Linked DNA regions of Homo sapiens: region 1 is reported to be linked to region 2. Evidence: microRNA targets listed by miRTarBase, many of them from high-throughput screens and not tested one by one. Region 2 holds a microRNA gene; the other region holds the end of a gene's coding sequence.
What was found. Region 2 holds the annotated microRNA hsa-miR-767-3p (UCUGCUCAUACCCCAUGGUUUCU, at 2,039-2,061, shown strand). A microRNA usually pairs through its seed, bases 2 to 8, with sites in the 3' UTR of a target mRNA and lowers its output. Matches are read on the target gene's strand: a 7mer-m8 pairs with bases 2 to 8, a 7mer-A1 pairs with bases 2 to 7 and ends in A, and an 8mer does both.

Region 1: the mRNA of CACNA1A is a reported target of hsa-miR-767-3p. Seed matches in the 3' UTR shown: 7mer-A1 at 807-813.

What each region holds. Positions count from the first base shown.
Region 1 is chr19:13,204,542-13,207,849 of GRCh38, reverse strand. It overlaps CACNA1A (calcium voltage-gated channel subunit alpha1 A), which reads left to right. Exons shown (of 47, transcript NM_001127222.2): 47 at 1-1,408. The coding sequence ends at 537. Among named protein-coding and RNA genes, the nearest start is that of IER2, 56 kb to the right of the region's middle.
Region 2 is chrX:152,392,200-152,395,507 of GRCh38, reverse strand. MIR767 (microRNA 767) reads left to right here and starts at 1,979; the gene lies at 1,979-2,087. The region is part of intron 1 of GABRA3 (gamma-aminobutyric acid type A receptor subunit alpha3); the gene reads left to right. It overlaps MIR105-2 (microRNA 105-2), which reads left to right and starts at 1,016; the gene lies at 1,016-1,096. MIR105-1 (microRNA 105-1) reads left to right here and starts at 3,209; the gene lies at 3,209-3,289.

The DNA of each region.
Region 1 (3,308 bases), not on the chromosome of region 2:
AGGCCGGGCCGGGCGGCCACCAGCGGCCCTCGGAGGTACCCAGGCCCCACGGCCGAGCCTCTGGCCGGAGATCGGCCGCCCACGGGGGGCCACAGCAGCGGCCGCTCGCCCAGGATGGAGAGGCGGGTCCCAGGCCCGGCCCGGAGCGAGTCCCCCAGGGCCTGTCGACACGGCGGGGCCCGGTGGCCGGCATCTGGCCCGCACGTGTCCGAGGGGCCCCCGGGTCCCCGGCACCATGGCTACTACCGGGGCTCCGACTACGACGAGGCCGATGGCCCGGGCAGCGGGGGCGGCGAGGAGGCCATGGCCGGGGCCTACGACGCGCCACCCCCCGTACGACACGCGTCCTCGGGCGCCACCGGGCGCTCGCCCAGGACTCCCCGGGCCTCGGGCCCGGCCTGCGCCTCGCCTTCTCGGCACGGCCGGCGACTCCCCAACGGCTACTACCCGGCGCACGGACTGGCCAGGCCCCGCGGGCCGGGCTCCAGGAAGGGCCTGCACGAACCCTACAGCGAGAGTGACGATGATTGGTGCTAAGCCCGGGCGAGGTGGCGCCCGCCCGGCCCCCCACGCACCCCACGCACACACCCCACCCGAGGAGCCGCGCAGAGGCCGCGGGGGCCCAGCACAGAGGGCCCGGGAGAGGGCCAGCCGGGAGACCCCAGACTCTGGAGAGGCCAGGGCTGGGCCACAAGGGTGTCCCGCAGAGACCCTCGGCCAAAAGAGACCCTCCTGGGCAGCCACGGCGCCCCCCAACCAGCCCCGATCCCCCCACCCACGACAGGGGCTCTCGGGTGGGAGGCAGGGAGCAGACAAACCACACAGCCAAGGGATTTGAATTAACTCAGCCATTTTTGGAGAACTTTGGGGAACATGAAAAAAAAAAAAAAAAAAAAAAAAAAAAACATTTTTAAAAGAAAAAACGGGGAGAAAAAAATAGCTTCTATTGATGAGTTTTATCATCTCAATTGAATCTTTCCTTTCCCTGATGAAGACAGCTGGTGGCCGAGTGCGGCAAAGAAGCCAGAAGGAACCAGAATCCCAGTGCCCTACACCCACCACCAGACACACTCACACCCACACACGTTCTCAGACACACACAAGAGTGCTTGCCGGTTATACCAAACCCTACTATTACTGCCTGCAGAAATCAATTTAAAAAAATAATAATAACAATAAACAATTTTAAAAAGGACAAAAAAATTAATGATTGAGAAAAGAGGCATTTTTTTCTGACATTTGGTCCTGCTTGAAACAACAAAAGAAGAAGAAAAACCCACCATCACCACCGATTCCTTTGCTTCTTTTTTCCTTTTTTCCTACCTTGTTTGAAAACCGTGGGCTTGGGACTGTGAATTATTGCATGACATTCAAAAAGAAAAAAAAAATAAAAAAAAGTTGAATCAAAGGGCTTTTGGATAGGAGTGGTCTTTGTCCCTTGGCTAGGTGCTGCCTGGGTGGGTCTCTCTTGGGGAATCATACAAAGAGGCACTTCTTTGTTAGCTCCTAGAAGCACTGTTTGAAAGCGACAAGGAGGCCGGGCATCATGCACGCCTGTAATCCCAGCACTTTGGGAGGCTAAGGCAGATGGATCACTTGAGGTCAGGAGTTCGAGACCAGCCCGACCAACATGGCAAAACCTCATCTCTACTAAAAATACAAAAAAAATTAGCCATGCGTGGTTGCACAAACTGTAATCCCAGCTACTCCGGAGGCTGAGGCATGAGAATCACCTGAGCCTGAGAGGCGGAGGTTAGCAGTGAGCCAAGATCCCACCACTGCACTCCAGCCTGAGTGACGGAATGAGACTCTTGTCTCAAAATAAAAAAAAAAAAGGCAGGGCGCGGTGGCTCACGCCTATAATCCCAGCACTTTGGGAGGCCGAGGTGGGTGGATCACATGAGGTCAGGAGTTCACAACCAGCCTGGCCAACATAGTGAAACGCCGTCTTTACTACAAATACAAAAATTAGCCACGCGTGGTGGTGGGTGCCTGTAATCCCAGCTACTCGGGAAGCTGAGGCAGGAGAATTGCTTGAACCCAGGAGGCGGAGGTTGCAGTGAACCAAGATCGTGCCACTGCACTCCAACCTGGGTGACAGAGCAAGACTCCATCTTAGATAATTAATAATAATAATTTGGTCTCGTGGACACCAACCCCCGCCCCCACGAAGTGTTTCAGCCATCCCCAGAGTCCAATACCCCTTTGAGAGCTTCTGTTCTCACAACAGTACCTGACCCATAGCAAGCTACTATTGACTATCACCATTACTACTGTAGCATTAAGGCAAACATTTTGAACAGGTCTTGTTCCAGACAACAGGCCCTGCTTGAGCTTACCTTGGGTAAGAAATCTGCAGACTCCAGATAGCAAGACAGGTGTAAGTCCTTCTAAAATAATGGTAAGCCAAATGTGGTGGCACACACCTGTAGTCCCAGCTGTTCAGGAGGCTGAGGCAGGAGGATCACTTGAGCCCACGAGGTCAAGACCAGCTATGATCACACCTGTGAATAACCATTGCATTCCAGCCTGGGTGACGTAGAAAGATCCCATCTCTAAAAAAATTAAAAGTAAAAATAAATAAATAAAATAATGGCATCTAGGAAAAGATCAGTCCAACGAGAAGTCAAAGTTTTGAGGTCGAGTGCGGTGTCTGACTCTTGTAATCTCAACACTTTGGGAGAATCACTTGAGGCCAGTAGTTCAAGACCAGCCTGGGCAACATAGCAAGACGCTGTCTCTAAAAAAAAAAGTTTGTTTTTTTTAAGGCTGGGTACAGAGGCTCACGCCTGTAATCCCAGCACTTTGGGAGGCCAAGGTGAGCAGATCACCAAGTCAGGAGTTTGAGACCAGCCTGGCCAACATAGTGAAACCCTGTCTCTACTAAAAATAAAAAAATTAGCCAGGTGTGGTGGTGCATGCCTATATTCCCAGATACTTGGCAGGCTGAGGCAGGAAAATCGCTTGAACCTGGGAGGCAGAGGTTGCAGTGAGCTGAGATTGCGTCACTGCACTGCAGCCTGGGCGACAGAGTGAGACTACGTCTCAAAAAAAAAAAAAAAAAAAAATGGAATGGAAGGGAGGGAGGGAGGGGTTTAACTTTCTAACCAGGCAATCTGGCAACCACCACAGGCTTCTAAACAAGCTGCCCATCCATTGCAGAGCTGGCCTCTGGTCCCCCTCCCATGGTGCTGGGGTTGAGTGTGTCCAGGAGCCACTGGAGTAAGCCAGGGTTTGTGCAATTCCCTCTGCTGTCAATGAGGCTGCAGCCATCTGTCCTCCCAGGAATGAAGTTCACTACCGAAGCC
Region 2 (3,308 bases):
AGGGACATGCGTCTGAATGGATACCACTCCTGAAGGATAGCCAACTGCTTGTGTATTTTATGTGTATACTAATTGATTCTCTGTGTATACATCATAGATATTGCTCACCCATCATTAATGTGTAAAAAATAAACATAATCTCCTTCTGTGTGGAGAATGATAACTTTAATAACATGAATATTAGTTCCTGAATTGTGGTCACTGGCTCCTGCAGAATGGGTATTTTCTCCATATTTGCTGTCTGTTCCTGTATCATGCTTACTAACTGTATCATAGCTGTTAGTTTGTGTAATGGGATCGTTTGGATTTATATCATGCCCAAACACAAATGTGTAGAGTCAATCACCATGGTTATTTTTTTTATGAGTCATTATGTCCATGTGAGTCTTTTTTTTGTACCACTGTCATCTTCTCTTGGGCCAAAGTCATTAATTGCTTGCATGGTTATTTTTGATTACATACCATATCTACCCAAGTAAGAATCACACCATGTTTTATTTCCATATCATGTCCATCTGCACCTGTGTCATAATTGATAGCCTATGTCCTGTAGGTGTCTGACTGGACCTCATGAACACATATTAAAACATGCTTTTTGGCATCTTATTCATCTGAACATCCTGTATTATTTTGATCTTCTTTTTGACAAAATGCCATACATACCCGTATTTTTTGTATCACCTGAGCAGTTTTTACTCTGTGATTCTTTCCTGGGATACCATATCTATCCCCTTTTTCATGTATGAATTGACCTATTCTCCATGATAATATAAACATACATAATGAATTTGTGCTCATATACTGTGATTGAAGTTGTACTACGTATTTAAACTTAAACACCACACTTGTGTGAAAATACACAATCATTGTCTACTTGTACTGGGAATGAGTATTTTGTACTATGTATATTAATTTCTACACCATGTCTTTCACTATTGTGATGAGTTTTCTCTGTCCTTTGTCATCTGTCTACTCCCTATAACCTGGTATCAGCTCATGTTGCAGATCTTCTGTGTGTGCATCGTGGTCAAATGCTCAGACTCCTGTGGTGGCTGCTTATGCACCACGGATGTTTGAGCATGTGCTATGGTGTCTACTTTTGCAACATTGCCATCTGCTTCTGGAACAAAGCCACTCATTTTTCTGCTCTGTTTTAAAATCTGGTATCATGTCTGTCAGAAGAATCACAGCATATTGTCATTTATTGTCATATTTACAATAATGGATAGTGGAGCCAAAATGACTGAATTTGAATCCTGGATTATCCACTTACTAGCTATGAGATCTTGGACACATCAGTTCATGAAATGGACACATCAATTCGTATCTTCATGCTTCAGTTTCCTGCAAAATGACAAAAAAAGTAGTAAGGTTATTGTGAGGATTGTATAAGCTATTATACATAAAATATTTTTAATACTGCCTGGCAGGTAGTGATGATGATGATAACAATGATGATGATGATGATGACATGACAATGATGATAATGATACTGTGTCCCTTGATCGTGTATAATAATTGTCAGCTCAAATTCTGGAGTTCTCTAAGTGTGCATTATGGTCAAATGCTGATACTTGTGATAGTGTTTAAAGCATCATTATATAAGTATATGCCATGGCAGTCATTTGAATCGTTGCCATCTGTAGTATTCTATTAGCTACTGCACTATCGTTTTCTGCTATTTTATTATCAGCATCTTCTTCAATATCCTTGTTCATCTGCTCCTATATTATGGTCATCAGCTTATTTTTGTTGGGATATCTGGGTGTACATCGTGGTTTAACAGTCAAATATTAGTGTTAGTTGCTCATGCACCATGATTGCCTGAGTATGTGCCATGATATCTCCTCCAGCATCATTGTCATATGCTGTTTGCCTAAATAAGTTGTATTCATGTGTTATGTTTCCTTTATTCATATGTCCTGTCCATCTGGGCATATTCCTCATTGTGTTATTCACTCTTGTATCACACCCACCTGCTTTTATATTGTAGGTTTTTGCTCATGCACCATGGTTGTCTGAGCATGCAGCATGCTTGTCTGCTCATACCCCATGGTTTCTGAGCAGGAACCTTCATTGTCTACTGCTTTACAGGGAAATAGTGTTTTATGCATCGTGTATATGAGTTTAGTATTTACTCATATTCTATGACTCTCTACTCTTAGATCACTTCTGCCTTTTTCTGCACATTGTTTATCTGTTCCAAAAAGACAGATGTTATCTCATGTCACTGGGCTTTCTAATTGTACATCAGTCAAATGCTTAAATGCCTATGATGTGATGGCTGTTCATGCAACATGGCTGTTTCAGCATATATCATAACTTCACCCGTTTAATCATTGCCATCTTCTCCCAGACTAAAGAAAATAATGATTTTTAATCACCAACCATATCCGTTTTGGTAATCATGGTTTCATGTCTACCTGCTCCTGTATCATTCTTTTACTTTATGTCGTGGGATTGTGTAGGTAGCCATCATAGTCAAATGCCCAAATACTAGTGGTGGCTGTTCATGCAATGGTCATCTGAGTATATGGTGTCAGGTCTCTTTTGACATATCTGACATCTACTCATGGACAAAGCTGTTTACCCCTGTACCGTGGCTCTTGTATAAGGCACAATATCTGTCTAAGTAAGCACCACAGCATGGTTTTATTCTCCGAAAACAAGTTTGTGTGCTGTATCTATCTATGCCTCTTAGCTCCTTTGGCATAAATGCTACGTAATAGTGTAAACTACTTTTGTGTACCTGTGTAAGTCAAGATCAAACAGTCAAATATCACTAATGGCTTTCATCAACTTTTGTCTGAACATGTTACACGGTGGGTCCTCTATGCACCTTTGCCACCTACATTTGAAATAATCATTCATGTATTGAGATGTTTTGATCTTGTACTATATCCATCTATGAGGTCTCCACTTATGATTATTTTCTCATAAGATGTCTCTTGGCTCTAAGTGAGCCCTGGCTAATTTTCCATGGTTGTATGAATGTGCTTATGCCCTTTAGCTATGGTCTTCTGCTCATTCATCATGATTTGTGAAAATGCACCATCGTTGTCTACATTGTACTAAAAATGGAATTTTCTGTACCATGAATATAATTTTGTGCACCATGATTTTTTGTCATACAGTGTGTTTGCCTCCTTCTTCGTCCTCAGTATCTACTCCTATATATTGGATGTCAGCTTCTGTTGCAGAACCTGAGTGTGCATCGTGGTCAAATGCTCAGACTCCTGTGGTGGCTGCTCATGCACCACGGATGTTTGAGCATGTGCTACGGTGTCTACTTTTGCTACATTGCCGTC